Linked DNA regions of Homo sapiens: region 1 is linked to region 2. The links come from fine-mapping of genetic effects on gene expression. A gene starts in region 2. The other region holds a variant in brackets. All regions are shown on one strand. Distances are from middle to middle.

Region 1 (11,037 bases), 740 kb before region 2:
ACATTCCTTGGATCTCCTGAATTCCCTACTTGTTTTTACCACAAAGTCAGCCAGCTTTGCGCAAAGCTGGCTTTTCTTACTGCAAAGCAGCCAGTTTTTACCGCAAGCCAGGCCTGGGCCTCTATGTAGAGGTACTCATTAACTATATGCCTTACTTCTCTAAGCTATTCACTACCACTTGGCATGTTATACCACCATGAAATTATTTACCCCCTAAGTTACAGAGCTTGTTTGAAGCTAACAATTCCAAATATGCCCCACTTTTAGCCCTGAATAGAGAGATGCATTGATGGAAAAATAAATGAGGTCAGTATTCTTTTCTACTCATCTGACAAGAATGGCACTTTATTAAGGAAGCAAATTTTCCAATGTGGTTTCCAAAAATCTTACTCATTCCAAAATGAATAAGGAGGTGCTCCATTCTTTTCTTTGCTATATCAACATATAGGACCTCCACGTCACAGACCTTAGATATTTCCCCAAATAGAAAATAGTACAGTTTGTAAGTGGCAGAATCAGTCTGTAAACACAATTTGTTCCAAACCCATCATTTAAATAGAAATGGCCCAAAGCCAGCATTGCTTCAAGCATAGGAATTCTCATATCATTTGTCCTCACCAACAAATTCCACAGTACCAAATTTAGCTTGGTGAGACAAGCATGATGCTGAAAATACATCCTCTGCTGTTATTTGGCAACATTTAATAAAAGAAGAGCAGATGTTGAACTATAGGGACAGGTTAAATTTTGAAATTACAGTGCCATTATAACTAATTAAAGCCAGAATAAAAGACACAAATTTGAGAAAGATAAAATTATTGAAATAAGACTTTGGAGTTTGTTTTAACAGGATTTGATCTGTGTAACATATTTTGTAATGTCTATTTGTATTTGTACATAATTGCACTTTAATTTATAACAGTTTAACTTCAAATATTTTTCTACTTTAAGTACAGTGCAGTATTTAAATAGAAGTATACTTCTATTTCTTCCTTCTTGTCTTTATGCTATTGTGATACATTTTGCTTCAATATATGTTATGAATCCTGCAATATACTGTGATTATTTTCACTTTAATTAGTTGATGATGTCTTAAAGAAGTCATTTATATATTTATCATTTCTGGCACTCTTCAGTCATTTGTATAGATCCTTTTCTTGTGCTGTATCCTGCCTGAAAACTTCTGTTTTCTTTCTTGTTGTGCAGATGGCTAGTGATGAGTTCTTTCAGCTTTTGTTTGAAAAGTTTTAATTTAACTTTTATTATTATTATTATTATTATTATTATTATTATTTTCAGATGGACTCTTGCTCTGTGGCCCAGGCTAGAGTGCGGTGGCATGATCTCGGTTCACTGCAATCTCTGCCTCCCAGGTTCAAGGGATTCTCCTGCCTCAGCATCCCAAGTAACTGGGATTACAGGCACCCACCACTGCGTCCAGCTAATTTTTGTATTTTTAGTAGAGACAGGGTTTCACCATCTTGGCCAGGTTTGTCTTGAACTTCTGACCTTATGATTCACTCACCTCAACCTCCCAAAGTGCTGGGATTACAGGCATGAGCCACTGCGCCTAGCAGTTCACTTTTATTTTTGAAACATTTTTTGCTGGGTATAAAATCCTAGATTTACAGCTTCTGTTTCATTACTTTAAAGATATTGTCTCATTGTCTTCTGGGTTATGTAGTTGCTGTCAAGAAATCTGCTGCCATTGGTTTTGGCTGTTGTTCTTATGTAAATAAGATGTCCCCTTTTCACTGGCTGTTTTAAAAAATTTTTTTGACACTGGTTTTCAACAATTGGGCTATGGTGTGCCTTGGCATGATTTTCTTAATGTTTATTCTGCTTGGCATTTGTTGAGCCCCTTGAATCTTCAATTTATAGTTTTCTTCAAAATTGGAACACTTTTATTTATTATTTTTTCAAATATTTTATCTCCCCCCTCACATCATTTTCTTGGCACTTTAATTATACACATGTGTTCATCTAGGTTATATATGTAAAGTCCACAAGTCACTAATGCTCTATTCATTTTTTTTAGTCTTTTTTCTGTGCTTCATTATTTCTTCAACTTCACTTACCTTTTCTTCTGCAATATCTGATTAACTATTAATCCCATGCAGTATTTTTCAATTAAGATACTGCATTTTTCATCTTTATGTGTTTTATCTGAGTCTTTTAAAAGTATCATCAATTTGGCTGGGCATGGTGGCTCACACCTGTAATCCCAGCACTTTGGGAGGCCAAGGCAGGCGGATCACCTGAGGTCGGGAGTTCAAGACCAGCCTGACAAACAGGGAGAAACCCTGTCTCTACTAAAAATACAAAATTAGCTGGGCCTGGGGTGGCACATGCCTGTAATCCCAGCTACTAGGGAGGCTGAGGCAGAAGAATCGCTTGAACCTGGGAGGCGGAGGTTGCGGTGAGCCAAGATCATGCCATTGCACTCCAGCCTGGGCAACAAGAGCGAAACTCCGTCTCAAAAAAAAAAAGTATCATTAATTTATCTTTTCACCATGTTCATGTTTTTATTTACTTTCTTATAGATAGGAGTGTATTTAAAATAGATATTTTCATGTTCTTGTCTGCTAATTCATTATTTCCATAATTTCTGGGACTGTTTCTATTGATTACTTTTTCTTTTGGTTATAAGCAATGTTTTCCTGTTTTTTTGTATGCCTGGTAATTTTTGACAGGATACCTGGCATTGTGATTCTACATTGTTGGTTGCTGGATTTTGTTATTTTCTTTTAAATAGTGTTGAGCTTTATGCTGGTACAAAATTAAGTTACTTGGAATCTATTGGATCCTTTCCTTTTCAAGCATTTTAATGGTGAGTTCAGAGTGGCTTTTAGTCTAGGGCTTATTTAGTCCCACTAGTAAGGTGGGACTACATAAGAAGAGTCCCCCTCTGAGGACTCTAGGAGGTCTTTCTACTCTGACTGGTGGGAACACAAACTATTCCTAGCCCTGTGTAAGCCCCAGGAATTGTTCAGCTTGCTGCTTTTGGGTGATGGTTTCCCCTTAGATAGTTTCCTCTTGTGTATACATGAATCAGCCATCAGCCAAAGCTTCAAAGTGGCTCCTTTATAGATCTCTGGAGTGCTCTCTTTTTCTCCCTGTCTTCCCCTGCATCTCCCTCCTTTCTAGTGCATAGACCCATACGTTCTAGTGACTTTGACCTCCCTTGGCCTGGATCTCTTGCTCCTCATCTCAATGAGACTGCTGTGCTATTTCTTCCTCCCTATACTGCAATCTGGAAATTGCCTCCAGGTAGCAAGCTGGGGCAATCATAGGGTTCACCTCTTTATTTTCCCTTCCTCTTGGATCATATTTCTGTGCTGCCTGTTGTCTAACATCTGAAAACTACTGTTTCATATATTTTGTCTAGTTTTTTAGTATTTTAAGACAGGAGGGTAAATCCATCCCCCATTACTCTATCATGGCCAGAAGCAGAAGTCTTCCGATCCCCTATAATGAATGTTTGTGGCTGGAAAAATGTTTGTTTATTTTCTATAACTTTCCCTAGTGATTCTACAGTTCCTTACCAAGTTTGATGGTAAAATAAAAATTAATCATGCTAGAGGCCGAGCATGGTGGCTCACACCTGTAATCCCAGCACTTTGGAAGTCCAAGGTGGGCAGATCACCTGAGGTCGGGAGTTCAAGACCAGCCTGGCCAACATGGAGAAACCCATCTCTACTAAAAATACAAAACTAGCCAGGTGTGGTGGTACATGCCTGTATTCCCAGCTAATTGGGAGGCTGAGGCAGGAGAATGGCTTGAACCCAAGGGTGGAGGTTGAGGTGAGCTGAGATTGCACCATTGCACTCCAGCCTGGGCAACAAGAGCAAGACTCCATCTCAAAAAAAAAAAAAAAATTAATCATGCTGGAACTTCACTTTGGTCACATTAGCAGCAGGCTTCTTTTCCTATTTTGTTTCCTGGCACCTGCTGGATCTCTAAAGCAAGAGAGAGTCAAACCCTTGGTTTCCCAAGTTTGGGTCTACCTGATTCATTCACATATACTTTATGTGATGATCAGTGTTTTCATGTTTAGATTCCCATAACTCGTGATTATCTGATACTGACTATAGTTGTTGAAAATTATATATAAAAAAGAGCCCTAATAAAAGTCGTAAGAAGGCAAGCATTCTCTTGAGTGCTCACCTTTTTTATTTCTACTTCACATACTGGAGCCCTCTCCTTGACTTCAGGCCTTCAGTAACATTCAGGCAGTTCCCCGACTCTCCAAAATCCCTTCTGGAAGCTTCGCACATAGACACATCCTATTTCAAAATTATGCTCTTTTTCTTTTTACAAGATAGTCAAACTCCAATGACCTGAAAGGCTTAACCCGTTCACCATAAGAAGCTTGAAGGTAGGAACTAAATCTTCTTTTTGGTGTTTCATCAGATTCTAGAATGTCATCTGACACTGGACTTCATAATTGTTCACTTTCTGAGTATACCTTGAGTGATTGAGGGCAGGAAATTTGGAGCTACTGTCACAGTGCTTTCTACCACCTCCTCTGGCTTTTAGGGTGTCCAAGATAAAATAAGAAGGGACCCTGTTTTCTCATAGTTGCATTTTTCTAGTGGAGGCTCTACCTCTTATCTGGTCTTTAAAAGAGAAGAAAAGACTAACCTCTTGGGAAGGTTGATTTTGGCTTCTGCCCAATAACCCAAATCCATGAACACTCTCCCACCTTCTGAAGTTGTATCTCTAATTTTTTCATAGACATTTTAATAGGGTTTTCACTTCCCTACCATTAGTTTATATTTAATATCAAGTTAATGAACTACATTTGTAGGATCTTTATCCCAAGTCTGTATTCCTCAATTTTTTACAGACTTTATGCTTTCGGGTAATCATTTCAAGTTTCATCATTTTTCAATATATCCCACAAGCAATTTGTGACTTGGCTCTATCAGCTTGAAGTAATTAGAAATTCACTTGCACTATTGAGGACTTGCATCTGTAAAAGGAAGAAATATTTTCTGGAAAAATGGATTTGCAAAATGAAGGCACTTTGGCTTGGTGAGTCTGGACCTCACACAGGTTGAGACAGTCACAACTTGAGACCGTGAGATAGGTGAAAGGCCCTTGAACCAGAACACTAGAATCAAATGAGTCTTTTCTCTCATGTTGCCCTGTGGTAGACAGAATGTGGGGTTGATGACCAGGCCAAGCTAAGGAAAACTCAGGTGGATGGGCATGAGCAGGCTTGTTTTCAGATTTGAATAGCATTTCAATACCTTCAAAACCATTTTCACTTGTTCATCACCCTGCTTTTCACCACCAATGAAATGTGGCTATTCCATTCACCTCTGGACACTTTAGGTTCCTCTTTGTTTTCCTCCTTGTACCCCTCTCTCTCTTTTTTTTTTTTTTTTTTTTTTGAGACGGAGTCTTGCTCTGTCGCCCAGGCTGGCGTGCAGTGGCGCGATCTCGGCTGACTGTAAGCTCCGCCTCCCGGGTTCACGCCATTCTCCTGCCTCAACCTCCCGAGTAGCTGGGACTACAGGCACCCGCCACCGTGCCCGGCTAATTTTTTGTATTTTTAGTGAGTCGGGGTTTCACCGTGTTAGCCAGGATGGTCTCAATCTCCTGACCTCGTGATCCGCCCGCCTCGGCCTCCCAAAGTGCTGGGATTACAGGCGTGAGCCACCGGGCCCGGCTTTTTTTTTTTTTTTTTTTAAAGACAGAGTCTCCCTCTGTCGCCCAGGCTGGAGTGCAGTGGCAGGATCTCGGCTCACTGCAACTTCTGCCTCCCAGGTTCAAGCGATTTTCCTGCCTCAGCCTCCCGAGCAGCTGGGATTACAGGTGCACACCATTGCAAGCTAATTTTTGTATTTTTAGTAGAGATGAGGTTTTCCTGTGTTGGCCAAGCTGGTCCTGAACTTCTGAACTCAAGTGATCCTCCCACCTCGACCTCCCGCAGTGTTGGGATTACAGGGTGAGCCACCGCGCCCAGCCAAAAGCTAAGTTTACATATTGTACAAGTCATAGTAAGAATAGCCAGGTGTGGTGGCTCACGCCTGTAATCCCAGCACTTTGGGAGGCCGAGGCGAGTAGATCACAAGGTCAGGAGTTCGAGACCAGCCTGGCCAACATGG[T/C]GAAACCCCATTTCTACTAAAATACAAAAAAATTAGCTGGGTGTGGTGGCACATGCCTGTAATTACAGCTACTCGAGAGGCTGAGGCAGGAGAATCCCTGGAACCTGGGAGGTGGAGGTTACAGTGAGCTGAGATTGTGCCATCGCACTCCAGCCTGGGCGACAGGGTGAGACTCCGTTTCAAAGAAAAAAAAAAAGAATAAACATGGACATCTCTACCAGATTGTCAGTAGATGGTTTTTGTCTGCTCACAATCTCCTTAGGGAATAACAAACACTTCTCCCTTTCCTACACCATATGGTTCAGGCATGATTCAACACGTGCTTTGACTTAAAAACTGGACACACAGTTTAGGTTGGGCAATCAGAGAGATTGTTTCAAGGATGGGCAGAGCTCTCCCCAGGATTTTTCTGGAATGATTAAAAAACAGCCTCTATGTTTTGTTTGCCAGCTGTAAAGATAATGTAACACTGGAATCTTGGTGGCCATATTTGCTACTGAGTTAGAAGGGAAAGAATGAAGGCAACACAGGAAATGTGGAAACACAATGAAACCGCCATTGCAAAATTATAACTGAGAAAATTATTACAGTGAAAGAGATCTGACCTAACCAACCCCATCTTGCTTCTGACCTCCAAGCTGTCCTCCTTCATTCCTGGGCACAGGCCGATCTAACTTTGGGAGGAACTTAGTTTATAGTTTAACTTTGAAACAGAAATGATAACAGCCCTTTCCTGAAACGAATCCCCCTCCTGTATGGGGACAAGACTACCCTTGTAGGACTAACAAATTAGCTACAAGATTAGAAATTACGGTTTGGGAGTCATGGAGCTGGAGGCTACAAAATTCTGACCCTCCCCAAATTGCTCCTGGGGATAACGTCACCATTGTAAAGCCCTGCACTCGCTGCACCAGCTGGCACCACCCAGATTGATAAACTGGCTCATCTAGTCTTGTGGCCCCCACCCGGGAACTGACTCAGCACAAGAAGGCAGCTTTTACTCCCTATGGTTTCATCTCTGACCTGCCCAATCAGCACTCCCAACTCACTGGCCCCCTACCCACCAAATTACCCTTAAAAACTCTGATCCCCTAATGCTCGGGGAGACTGATTTGAGTAATAATAAAACTTCCATCTCCTGTACAGCCAGCTCTGCATGAATTAAAAACTTTCTCTGTTGCAGTTCTGTCTTGATAAATCAGTTGTCTAGGCAGTGGGCAAGGAGGACCCATTGGATGGTTACAAATTTAAGGTAAACTATTATGTAGGAAAATACTGTGTTTTTGATATGTTCTCACACCACAACAACCATCTGAAACCGCCTTTGCAAAATTATGACTGAGACAGTGAAAGAGATCTAACTTAACTGACTCCATCTTTCTGCTAACCTCCAAGCTGTCCTTGTTCATTCCTGGGCATAGGCTGAACTAACTTTGGGAGAATCTTAGTTTACAGTTTAAACAAAGATGGTAACAGCCCTTTCCCAAAGCAGACCTCCTTCTTGCCTGGGGACTAGATTGCCTTTGTAGGACTAACATTAGCCATAAGATTAGAAATTATGGCTTAGGAGTCATGCAGCTGGAGGCCACAAGATTCTGACCCTCCCTAAACTCCTCCTAAGATCAGTGCTTGAGGTATTTTGCAGACCCTGCACTTGATGGATCAGCTGGCCCCACCCAGATCAATAAACTGGCTCATCTGATCTTTTGGCTCCCACTCAGGAACTGACTCAGCGCAAGAAGACAGCTTCGACTCCCTATGATTTTATCTCTGACCAATCGGCACTCCTGGCTCACTGGCTTCCCCCACCCACCAAGTTATCCTTAAAAATTCTGCTCCCCCAGTGCTCAGGGACACTGATTTAAGTAATAATAAAACCCCGGTCTCCCGCACAGCCGGCTTTGCGTGAATTTCTCTTTCTCTATTGCAACTCCCCTATACTGATCTGGGCAGTGGGATAGGTGAACCCCTTGGGCGATTACACATCAACACAGAAAAGGATTTCTGTGACTAAATATTGTTTTTTTTTGTCTCCACACACCAAGTAGCAGACACCAGCTAGGTGTTCTCCAACTGAATTCCAACACTATCGACCTGGAGATAATATCACATCCCACAAATTGGGGGCCTAGTCCCCAAGACTGCTCCCTATACCCCCAGGCACCAGTTGCAAGTCTGGGCCTCAGGAACTCCTGACAACTAGTTTCAAATTGGGGTTCCCACGACTCCCTCTTTGCCTTCTAATAATTTGCTGGACTGGCTCACAGAACTCAGGGAAACACTTTTGGTTACTAGTTTCTTTTTTTTTTTGAGACGGAGTTTCGCTCTTGTTGCCCAGGCTGGAGTGCAATGGCATGATCTCGGCTCACCTCAGCCTCCGCCTCAGCCTCCCGAGTAGTTGGGATTACAGGCATGTGCCACCATGCCCAGCTAATTTTGTATTTTTAGTAGAGACAGAGTTTCTCCATGTTTGTCAAGCTGGTCTCAAACTCCCAACCTCAGGTGATTCACCTGCCTCGGCCTCCCAAAGTGCTAGGATTACAGGTGTGAGCCACCATGCCCGGCTGGTTACTGGTTTCTTATAAAGGATATTACAAAGGATACAGATAGGGTGAGGTATGCGGAAAGGGGCATGGAGATTCCATGCCCTTCCTGGGTGCACCACCCTCCAGGAACCTCACATGTTCAGCTATCCAGAAGCTCCCTGAACCCAGTCCTCTTGTTTGGTTGGTGTTTTGTTGTTTTGAGACAGGGTCTTGCTCTGTGGTCACCCAGGCTAGAGTGCAGAGGTGCAATCACGGCTTGCTGCAGGCTTATCTCCTGGATTCAAGAGATCCTCCCTCCTCACTCTCCAAAAGTGCTGGGATTATAGGCATGAACCACTGTGCCCAGCCCGTCTTGAGTTTTTGTGGAAGCTGAGTGATGTCAACATTCTTCCTGCAATGTTTTGTCTGGGAAGGGTCCTAAGCCCCACCATCAGAAAGGTGGGGAAAGATTAGTCTTGCTTTGGGGTAGGTGAAATGAGGACAGGAGAAAGTTGAGATTTCCTGGGGCCTGCCCCTGAGGCCTAATACATTCAAGATTATAACAAAAGACTGTAAAGGGGACTATGGAAGCAATGAACCAGGAACTGTGGAGGAAAACAAATATATATCATAACACCACAACTATTATAATAACATGATTTGGGCTCCTGGATCCAGCTCCCAAAATTCATCCTTAGATTTCCCAAGAGCCTATAATTACCCGTTTTTGCTTAAATACGTTTGAATTGGGTTTCCGTTGTCAGTGGATTTAGGTAGACCTTTAACATGAAACACCAAGCTGTGGGCAAGGTATGAGGAATCTGGTGAGGCGCATGTCCGGACTATCGGAGATTTACAGTGGAGCACCATCTCCCCAAACATTGCTACTACCTCCGTCTGAGAAGAGGCAGGCAGTGAGAACAAGCCGAGCTGAGCCTCTGGCGGTGAGGACCTGGCTAAATCCAAGCCAGGAGCACTGTGGGCCAAGGCTGGACAGCCCTCACCTATGGACTCTTGTCACTTCCAGGTACTGCCAAATGCACCTCAGTGGGGGTGAGGAAGTGGGCGGAGGCACTTCATGCTGACCCGAAAACAGACCCAAATCGCCCTTTCTGTGCCTGGGGGGCATGAACCTCCACGGCCCCAAACTGCAGTTGCAGAGGCAGAGTGGCAGGTCGACATTTCTGTTCTGTTCCTCAAATCCTTGGGGACTCGAGGTGTCCCCAAGGTGTTTCTGTTCCTCAAGTTCTTGGGGAACTTTCACTGTGTTCTTCCAGCTTATCGATTCTGCCTTGAGCAGCAGCAGGCAGGTGTGCAGGGGGTGGTTGGGAGGGGAGCCCCCCGCCAGCATCGAAGTGCTGATAGATTAGTCAGGAAAAAGAGTTGCTGCCTTCATCTCCCCTTGTGGGCTTTGGCCTCTTTCTCCCAATTGTCCTTTGGCAGAGGTGCAGAACGCTGATGAGATACCCCTTGGACTCCTTCCAGAAGAGTCTCCCATTGAGGCAATTAGGTGAGAGCTGACGACAATTTAGCGAGCACGCAGCGATGCCAAGGGTCTCCCGGATCAAGAGGCAAGTCTCAGCTCTGCTACTGATGTGCTTCTGAGGGGGTGGTCTCAACGAAACTAAAACAAGAAATCACCCTTCCTTTTGTAATACACTCCAGGATGTCTAAAAGAGTGCGGTGTTTTAGTGATGTGTCAGCGCACAATGAGGAAAATGTACTTTGCAGCATCCACTCCATTTCCTGGTTCCTACGACGGGTTTGGCAGGAACCACATCATGGACAAACAAATCATGGTAAAATATGTTTTTAAAGTAAAACAGGCTGGGAGCGGTGGCTCACGCCTGTAATTCCAGCACTTTGGGAGACCGAGGTGGGCGCATCATCCGAGGTCAGGAGTTCGAGACCAGCCTGACCAACACGGTGAAACCCCTGTCTCTACTAAAAATACAAAAATTAGCCGGGTATGGTGGTGCATGCCTGTAATCCCAGCTACTCGGAAGGCTGAGACAGGAGAATCGCTTGAACCTGGGAGGCAGAGGTTGCAGTGAGCCAAGATTGCACCATTGCACTCCAGCCTGGGCAACAGAGCAAAACTCCGTCTCAAAAAAAAAAAAATAGTAAAACAAAAAAAATTAATATTATGAGAGAACAATGACAGTGAGCTTTTTCATGGGTGACCACTATGTGGCTGGTGCTTTCATTGATGACTCCTCCTTTCTGCAAAGTAGATATTATTCCCATTTTACCAATGTGGAAAATGAGACTCCAAGCAGAAAGCAAATGAGATTGCATCTCTCAGCATGTGGTGACTCTCCCTTCCTATGGGAGCTTGCCCTTCTGCCTCTATTTTCTAACTGTCCTTAAAACTCTGAGTAAGGAGCCTCTTCCTC
Region 2 (10,486 bases):
GGCTTCTCCAGGCCCAACTCTAGCTCCATGGTCTCTTCTACCACCCTTGGAGATACAGTAGCATCTGTCGTTCCCTGCACTATGTTTGAGTCTGTGTGAAGGGTCTTTGTGAAGCTGCCTACAGAATTTCTCACGTGTGCCTACTCCATTGTTCATGCGCTACTCTAGTAGGACTTGGGAGTACTCTAGGCTTTTTTCATTCTCTACCACCATACTTAGGAAGCAAGAGATATATTTTGTCTGATCTCAGAACATTCATGAACCACCCTCATCCCCACCACCCAGATGGTAGAACCCCTTCTCAAAAACACTTGCTGCAAGATACCATCCTGCTCCCCTCTGTAGACTCCCTCTTTTCTCTAAAACACGTAGTTTCTTAAGGTAGGACAAAAATAGAAGGTGTATTTTTCCAATACCTGTTTTACAACTGAGTGGCTGCTTTTAAAGCTCAAAAGCTGTCCATGTGACACGGTTGTTTGTTGGGTCTGCCGTGACAATCCTCCATTCAGGTGGTGGATACTCAAGTCTGGCTCATTAGAATAGACAAGGAGCTGTGTGTATGTGGAAAACATTCTCTCAGCATGCTTCATGTCAAACATTGGACTCGTCACCCTCTGCCAAGCTATCTTCTTCTGTGCTCCCCTCTCAGTGAAGGACACACCCATGTGTCCAAACCAGACATCCTGACTCCTTCGTGTCCATTCAGTTACACCTCAATCCCGGTGGGCTTTATCTTTTTGATATCTCCTCCTTTCACTCTCCTCTCTCCATGTCCACCAACACTCCTAATTCAGGCTGTCCAGATGACTGAAACAGCCTCTATACTCTCTGTTCCCACTTCTGGATTGGCTTCTGGTCAATGCATGTGCCACACTCTCCAGGACTTTTCTAAATGGCCAATGGGCAATGTCCTTACTGCCCGATCTCCTCAGCACAGAGGCCAAACTTCTTATCATGGCACCCAGGCTTTCACAGTCTTGTCCCTATGCACCGCTTTGACATCATTTCTTGTCATCTTTCTACCTCCAACTTCAAATTCTAATCATATTGTCAAATTTTTTACTTCCTACAGGTGTTCTGTGGTCTTGCTTCTAGGCCTTAGCACATACTGTTCCCTCTCACTTGAAAAAGTTTCTCCTTCTCTGTCTTATTGCTATTCAGATCCCAATTCATTCAAAATATATTTATTGAGTATCTACTGTATGCCAAGCACTGTTAAAGGTCTCTCCAGAAAACCTACCCTCATCATCCAAGTATGGATTAGATGCTTTTCTTCCTTGCTTCCTGTAATCATCTTATGCTTATTCACAGATACTACATTTTATATTGTATTGCACTCGCCAGTGTTTGTCTGTCTACTTTACCAGACTGTAAGCTCCTTGAATACAGGAAATGTTCTGATTTAGTATTGAATACTCAGATCAGCACACAATGTAATATGGTTTGGCTGTGTCCCCATCCAAATCTCATCTTGAATTGCAACTTCCACAATTCCCACATGTTATGGAGGAACCTGGTGGGGGGTAATTGAATCATGGGGGTGGGTCTTTCTCATGCTGTTCTTATGATAGTGATTGGGTCTCATGAGATTTGATGGTTTTAAAAAACGGGAGTTTCTCTGCACAAGCTCTCTCTTTGCCTGCTGCCATCCATGTAAGATGTGACTTGCTCCTCCTTGCCTTATGCCATGATTATGAGGCCTCCCCAGCCAGGTGGAACCATAAGTCTAATAAACCTCTTTCTTTTGTAAATTGCCCAGTCTCGGGTATGTCTTTTTTTTTTTTTTTTTTTTTTTTTTTGATTCAAGGTCTCACTCTGTCACCCAGACTGGAGTGCAGTGGCGCCATCTTGGCTCACCACAACCTCCACCTCCCAGGCTCAAGTGATTCTCCCGCCTCAGCCTCCCGAGTAGCTGGGATTACAGGTGTGTGCCACTACCACCTGGCTTATTTTTACATTTTTAGTGGAGATGGGGTTTCACCATCTTGGCCAGGCTGGTCTTGAACTCCTGACCTCAAATGATCCACCTGCCTTGGCCTCCCAAAGTGCTGGGATTACAGGCATAAGCACTGTGCCTGGCTCTCAGGTATGTCTTTATCAGCAATATGAAAATGGACTAATACAGAACCCAACACACAATTAATGTTTGATAAGAGGATGAGTGAATGAATGAATGGGTAATCTATAATGTTACTAGATCTCTAATGCTGTACAATAAGCACACACACACATGCACCCACACAACGAACATATAGGCATAATTATGATATATGCGTATCATTATAAATAACACATACTCATTAAAACATTTGAAAAACAAAATACAAGTAAAATTTAAATGTAATTAAAATGACTGTCTAGTAAGCCATCAAGCAAATTTACCATAATTCTATACTTAAATTGTTTCTAAATGTTTTTTAATATCCTGCTGTGAACATCTTTGTAGATAAAGCTTTTTTAAAAAAAATTAAGAGATTATCAATTTATGAAAAAGCCCTAGAAAAGGAAGTAAAAAAAAAGTGAGCATTTCAAGGCTAGTGATAGATATTTCCAAAAATGTTTTTACCAACATTTACACATGACTTTATTGCATGTGTTTTAATTTTATTATTAGCAAAGAGGCAGTTCATAGCTTTTTGAGGTTGAAATTTTGGAAGGTAATTATGTCTTTCTTCAAAACATGCCTTGATTCTAAATATTGATTCTGAATTCTAAGCTGTGGTACTATTTGTCTAATTCTTCTGTTATTATGAAATAAAGCCTTAGCTACTATTTAAATAAATTGTCAAGGTTTACAGTGATTTATAGTCACTGATGTGTAAATGAGAAATTGATAAAGTGAGTAAGAAAGGAAATAATTTGAAAAGGAAAACAGATCTTCAGACCCTTGATGAAGCTATAGAAACCTATAGCAAGGGAAGTGGTTCTTCTGATAATAGGCTGGAGAGTATACATAAAGAAATCCATCAATTCCACAAGAACGTGCTCTGAAAATTCACGAGGCAATTGTACACATGCAGCTGTGTATAAGAATGATTTGAACTATTCCATTTTGTAACTTTGCTGTTTTATAAGCAGTGAAGTAAAATGGAAAATGATCTGAGAAGTCTGTGTGTTCTAACGTTCTTCCTCTTTTACGCCATGTTTAGTGTTTTGGCACTAGTACAACCTTGAAGTACCATAGAATGCTGGGAAGCAGTTCTGCCAGCCTGTAATGCTCATCCTTGGAACTCATGCTTGCTAAAATGTCCTGTGACAAAAAAGTACGAATGGGTTCAAATGTACGAATGGGTTCATGTTGCTCACTTTCATTTGTGTTAGCACAGAGGGAAAAGAGAAGGTCCTGCCCAGTGTCCTGGTTCCAATGACAGGTCTGCCCTTTACTAACTGTTATCCTGAGCAGCTCACAAACCTCCCTGAAGTTTGTTTTTATCATTCATTAAATAGGGCAAAAAATAATATCCACCAACTACCTACCTGAGTGAAAGTGAGCAGCAGATGAGAGGTGCTTTGGAAATCAACACATGAGCTATTCTTGCAATGCCACATTATTAGCGGGGGTCCTTTGCAGTGTCCAGGTTTGAGTCATTGAGGAGGGCTGACCATGGCGAGGCTATGAAGCCCTCACTATAAGGAGGTCTTTGGATCCTTACCGCCGTCTCCTTCCCTATCTCTCCCCTTCCTCAATCTAGAGCACCTCTGCCCCTTGTCCCTTAGGCATTTTTCCATTTCCAGGGGCCTATTCTAAGATATTACTGGGTGAAAAACCCTAGGAAGCAAAGAAATGTGGAATTGCAGACACTTGTAGTAGGTAATAGGAAAGTTTAACCATGGTCTATGTCTTTATTAGGGCAGTAGACAGTAGGATGTGGTGCAGTCTTTCTCAAACTAGAGCTTGTGATTACATTTTTAAAATATTTGTTTTCATTTCAACTCTTTTTTTTTTTTTTGAGACAGAGTCTCGCTCTGTTGCCCAGCCTGGAGTATAGTGGCACAATCTCAGCTCACTGCAAGATCCGCCTCCCGGGTTCATGCCATTCTCCTTCCTCAGCCTCCCGAGTAGCTGGGACTACAGGTGCCTGCCACCACGCCCGGCTAATTTTTGGTATTTTTAGTAGAGACTGGGTTTTACCATGTTAGCCAGGATGGTCTCGATCTCCTGACCCCATGATCCGCCCGCCTCAGCCTTCCAAAGTGCTGGGATTACAGGCGTGAGCAACCACACCCAGCCTCATTTCAACTCTTAAAACTATATTCATGCATATTCTGGATCACCAACATGACAGTTTTATAGTTTAGGATTACCACATGATTTCAGCTTCCACCCTCCTTGTTTGTGCATATAGAATATTTTTAATAAAGCTACTAAAAACAGCAGGGTTGTTTTAATATGCAAATGATATATACAAGCCAGATAAAGGAAAAATGGTATTAGGGATTTACCCTGAGTCAAGTGTTCCCAGTAGTTCAAATGGTGGGGAACACAGCATGCTGCTGGTATAACAGAAGTGTGATGAACTCCCAAGCAGCTGTATAGCAGTAGTCAGGACTGTCTTCGTGTTGCCAGAAGCAATTTCGTTTTCCAGCAAAATAATATCCCACATCTCACTTGAGTTGTTAATGTGAATGTTATTGGTTATATACCGTTATATGTTAGTTATATTTCTGTTGGCATGTAACTTGCATGTCTATTTTGGTATAAACATCCAAAGCTTATGTCAAGTCTTATTTTTGTTCATACTTAAGCAATATAATACAATTATTTACATCAACATTGGGGATCTGCAGATTTTTTAAGGGCTTTGTACAGCAGGCAACTTGGAGAAGCTGTGGTATATAAAGGGTGTCAGACACAGTCAGGATATCTAAGTTCCAGTGGTGACGCTGATGTTAACCACCTGATTGCAGGATGTTAGGCTGCTTGCTTCACCTCTACGGGTTGTAGTTTGCTCCTCTGTAGACAGAAAGGGCTTGATTATATGATTTTAAAATTCTCTTCCAACTTCAAATTCTATTCTTTTTTTTTTTGAGACAGAGTTTAGCTCTTGTTGCCCAGGCTGGAGTGCAATGGTGCAACGTTGGCTCACAGCAACCTCCGCCTCCTGGGTTCAAGCGATTCTCCTGCCTCAGCCTCCCGAGTAGCTGGGATTACAGGCATGCACCTCCACGCGCAGCTAAGTTTTTTTGTATTTTTAGTAGAGACGGGATTTCTCCATGTTGATCAGGCTGGTCTCGAACTCCCGACCTCAGGTAATCCGCCCACCTCGGCTTCCCAGAGTGCTGGGATTACAGGTGTGAGCCACTGCGCCCGGTCTCAAATTCTGCTCTTAAAAGATCAGAGCCTTCATTTGGGAACATAGCCAGGCACTGATTTGTGCTATAAAGCCTGAATAAAGCCTTCAGACTTTACCCAGACAATGGTCAAAATTGCTACGAAGCTGTTTCCACCTGCCTTGACTCCAGGGAGGAGCAGGAAGAGGCCTCCATAACTTGTAGAAGATTGTCTGTTCTCCACCATTTATTTATTCAATCGTTTATTTATAGCAGTATGGACTCATGGGTATTTATTTTATTCTGTAAATTATGATCCAATACTATCATTATTTATTTTGTTGCTCAAATCTACAATATGATTTAAATGGTAGAGTAGAATTACATGTCTGTACCACAAATTATTATTATTATACATTTTGAGACAGTCTCACTTGATGCCCAGGCCGGAATGCAGTGGCAAGATCTCTGCTCACTGCAACGTCCACCTTCCAGGTTCAGGAGATTCTCCTGCCTCAGCCTCTCAGGCTGATTACTGGCATGTGCCACCACGCCTGGCTAATTTTTGTGCTTTTAGTAGAGACGGGGTTCAACCATGTTGGCCAGTCTGGTCTCAAACTCCTGACCTCAGGTGATACGCCCACCTCGGTCTCCCAAAGTGCTGAGATTACAGGCCTGAGCCCCCGCGCCTGGTCTGTGCCACAAATTCTTGATCCAGTTCTTCAATGTTGGACATTTAGGTTGTCTCCAGTTATTTGATACCATTAATGATGTCTGAGATACACACATCTTTGAATTTTTTATGTGTTTCCGTAAATTAGTTTTCTAGTAGGGGAATTACTGGATGTTGGAAAAGTTTATGCTTTTGGTTTTGATCCAAGAGGCATAAATTGTCAACATGCCAACATGGAAATCATACACTCCACACATTCTACCCAGACTACCCAGCTGTAAGCAGAGAGGTGTAGATCCAAGTCTCCTGCCGGCAGGGTGATTTAGCGCAGTTGTCAATAATCTGTACAACACGTAACAATAAAGTTATTGATGTTGAGGAAAAGACTTCCGGTAGGGGCATTTCTATTTCCATTGGGTCCTGTCTTCTCCACCTTCTACGTTTCAACCGGAAATAGTCGTACCCATTTAAAGCCACGTCGGTACTGGCCTCGGTCCCGCCCCCCACACTGCGGAACCGTTTCCGGGGTCAGGGCATTCCGTCCCGCCCCGCCGCCGGTGCAGTGTTGGAAGCTCCGGTTCTCCCGGAAGTGGCCCAGGTCTCTCTGTCGGGGTCCCCTCCATCTCGCTGCTGCTGAAGGCCGCGAGGGCGGCGGCGATGGCGGAGGCGGCGCTGTTGCTGCTGCCTGAGGCGGCGGCGGAGCGGGACGCTAGGGAAAAGCTGGCTCTCTGGGATCGGAGACCGGACACGACGGCGCCGCTGACCGACAGGCAGACGGACTCGGTATTGGAGCTGAAGGCGGCGGCAGAGAACTTGCCGGTGCCAGCTGAGGTGAGGTGATGGGCAGGAACCGGGCCGGGGCGATGGGGCTGGGATTCTCCTCGGGCGCCCCGGCAGGACCCCGGCCTCACTAGCCTCTGCCCAGGATATCTCTCCACTCCTCCCTGGCCATGGTGGCGGATCCGGTGGGAGGGGCCTCATCTCCCAGGCTGTCAGGCTTCGCTCTGCCTGCGACCCCGACTCTAATTCTGCCTGGGGACGGCTGTGGGGGTGTCCTGCAGCTGGTGCTCGCCGGAACCCAGTCCTCCCCCAGCAGCATGGGACGGTTGGCCCGGAGCCTTGCACCGAACGTTTTGCCCCAGACGAGGCGTCCTGTCAGCCGAGGCGTAATCCTGCTGCCCACTCTCTCCCAGAAGGAGAGGCAGTCAACCCGAGGTGCTGTGCTGCAGGACAGTCTCCAGCGCGTGCTCGTTTACCGCCTTAATGATTCACCTAGGTTGCTTTGTCCATGGGGGTCTTGGGGAGACCAAAACTTGGTCCTGAGTGAGTTTCATTTATCGCACATTGAACTATGAGCTCTCAATCAAGTGCAAGTTATGGGAGATCAGATTTATTTCACCTATTGCAAAGCAATAAAAATGAATTTTATTTGAAAGTTGGCTCAGTACATTATTAAGCAGTGCTGGTTTTCGGTGTTAGAGTCAATGTGTTTAATCCACTTACCATTAGGATATTATGCACTACTGCTTCTTGTGTGATTCAATTCAATTAGTTGTAATAGCAGGAAGTAACATGAATTGTCAGATGTTTGACAAACGTTTTCCAGTTTTGAGGGCCAGGTTTAGGAGGATTATTTTATATAAGCAGTGGTGATGGTTACTTTTGATGTTGGAAGCATTCTTTTCTCTCGCTCTGTCGCCCAGGCTGGAGTGCAGTGGCGTGACCTCGGCTCACTGCAACCTCCACCTCCCGGGTTCAAGCGATTCTCCTGTCTCAGCCTCCCGAGTAGCTGGGATCACAGGTGCCTGCCACTACACCCGGCTAATTTTTTGTATTTTTAGTAGAGATGGGGTTTCGCCCTGTTGTCCAGGCTGTTCTCGAACTCCTGACCTCAAGTGATCTGCCCGCCTCGGCCTCCGAAAATGCTGGGATTACAGTCGTGAGCCACCGTGCCTGGCCTGAAGCATTCTTTTTATACGATTTGGAATTGTGTCCAAATGCAGATTGAGTTTAGAGTCTTCAACTTTTTCTGTCCTCCAACTTTAGAGATTTGATTTAAACGTTCTCTTCACATTCACTGTTGTATGCTCAGCCATCAAATAGGCGTTCTTTCTTGGGTTTCTTTTTCCACCTCTAGGATATGGTACCGGAAGTGGATCTGAAATCAATGAAGGCGCAGGTGGAAATTTCTTTGGCTCAGCTATCAAACTCTTTTATACCCTGGATAATAAAAGTTGTTTGCTCTATAAATTTTCCAGTCTGTTTATAATTGATTTGGCTCCTACTGCAGCAGGATGCTTGGACTTAATAGCACTGAGGGTGTGATGGGGGAGATACATATTCTACAAAAAAATTTGTTTTCATTGTCATGGGTCATAAACTATTATTTCTTATTCTCATTGAGCATGAAGGAGAACGTTTGGAATGAACTAAATGGAATCTTTCATTTTCACCCCATTCTTCCATATTTATCATTAGCCACATGCAGTCTTTAACATATGTTATGTCCCTACTCTGAGTTAGGTATTGAAGATAGAAAGATAAATAGGAAAGATGAGATCCTTAGCCTCATAGAGCTGACATAATTGTGGGGATCATGAACATGGAAAAAAAGAACAAAGAAGGTATGTTCAGATGGTGGTCCATAATATAAGGAAAATCAGATAGGATGGTGTGACAGAAAAGGATGAGGTGTGCCCTTTTAGAGAAAGAGGGAAGACCTTTCCAAGGAAGTGACAGCCTGAGGTGAGAACTGATGATGGACTACCTGAAGCTAGCCTCATAAAGACTAAAGAAATAACATTGCAGCTGGAAGAAAGAACAGCATAAGGTCATGGGTAGAGGATGAGCTTAATGAGTTCAAGAATTCAGTGAGGGTCTTCTGGTACGTGCAGCTTGGTATTGGATTCCTGTGAGAATGCAATAGCTGAGGCCAGGTGCGGTGGCCCACGCCTGTAATTTCAGCACTTTGGGAGGCTAAGGCGGGAGAATCACTTGAGGTCAGGAGTTCAAGACCAGCCTGGCCAACATGGCGAAACACCATCTCTACTAAAAATATAAAAATTAGCTGGGTGTGGTGGTGCATGCCTGTAATCCCAGGTACTTGGGAGGCTGAGGCATGAGAATCACTTGAACCCAGAAGGCAGAGATTGCCCTGAGCCGAGATTGCACCACTGCGCTCCAGCCTGGGTGGGTGACAGGCAAGATTCTGTCTCAAAAAGAATGCAGTAGCCGAGCTGGTTATGCACACATCCTGGAATCTTTGAGAAGGCAGTTCTCATTGCTCTTCAGCTTTACAGCCCTCATTTTCCTTTTCTGAAGTGTTTATATGTCTGTTGGGAAGACTTTGGAATTAATTTTTTTAGCCCTATACTACTCTTTTAACATTGGCAGCAAAAGAGAGTGCCACAATTTTCATTTTGTCCAATCAGTATAACTCAAGGATTTTCTGTAGTGTTTCACAATTTTCACGAGATAAATTACTTCCTGAACAACTGGAACTGAGCAGGCTAGTAGAATAGCAAGAGGCCAACTAACTCTTAAGTACATATCATAAAGATGTTAACTTCTTTAGAAAATAGCTTTCTCTTTTATGAAAGAGAACTAGTCTTATCTTAAAAAGGAATTATGCCTTTTTTGGCATTAGAGAAAATAATTTACAATAGAATATTAGGTAGACTTTTGTAGCCAGGGCAAACTTAGTAGTGAGGGGCCTATTTCTTTCTGTTGAATTTAGTAATTCTTGATAAAGTGCTAAAATAATTTACCCCGACATTTACCTATAATTTACTGTTACAGCTGTTGTTTTCTTGTAGGCTGTGTGACCTTAGATGTGATGTTTATCTTTTCTAAGCCTTAATTTTCTTCTTTATAAAATGGGGACTTAACTCATGATGAGTACTTATCTCATAGGGAATTGTGAGAATTATGTGAAATCACGTATGCAAGGTGCACGTGGCAAGTTACTTGCTATTATTCTTGTGCTTTCTTTCAAATTATTAACATCTTAAAAGAATAGATTAGAATCCTGTGATGCTGAGCTGGTATAGGTGTCATTCAGACCAAAGGTAAGAAAAGGAGAGGTTAAGTGCCTTGAGGAAGGTTCTGAGACTCCACCTATACCTCTTCAGTAATTTGCTCCAAGCAGAGAACAAAACATCAGGTTTCATTTAGGGAATTAATTGATCAGATTGATTATAAAAGTGGTTTTCTCCAACCCAGAACTCTGCAAGAAGTAAAGCTTGGGAGAGAAAGGTATGTTACTTGTTATTTCAGGGACCTGCTCAGCTGGTCAGGCAAAGCTTGAGAATTTATTGTACTTACTATTTAATGTTAGTGTCTCCATTTGCATAAACTATACAGTAGCTCTGCAGCACTGGCCCATTAGCAATCTAGAACTGTGTTCTCTCTCTAGTGGTGTCTGTCTGCTCCATCTGGAAGCCAGGACAGTGCTGGTAAGCAGCAGGCATTCAGTCACCTCCTCCTGAGAAGTGAATGAGAGGTCAGAACAGGAAAGTGTGTGATACCACCACACCCCTTTTT

The links.
Region 1: its variant is fine-mapped to the expression of COG3 in nasal epithelium (TOPMed, PIP 0.95).

Annotation. Positions count from the first base shown.
Region 1 is chr13:44,719,936-44,730,972 of GRCh38, forward strand. LOC105370185 (a long non-coding RNA gene) reads right to left here and starts at 4,242. Exons shown (of 3, transcript XR_941929.4): 1 at 4,168-4,242. The variant T/C (reference allele first, on the strand shown) is at 6,117.
Region 2 is chr13:45,458,436-45,468,921 of GRCh38, forward strand. It overlaps COG3 (component of oligomeric golgi complex 3), which reads left to right and starts at 6,504. Exons shown (of 23, transcript NM_031431.4): 1 at 6,504-6,775. The coding sequence starts at 6,602.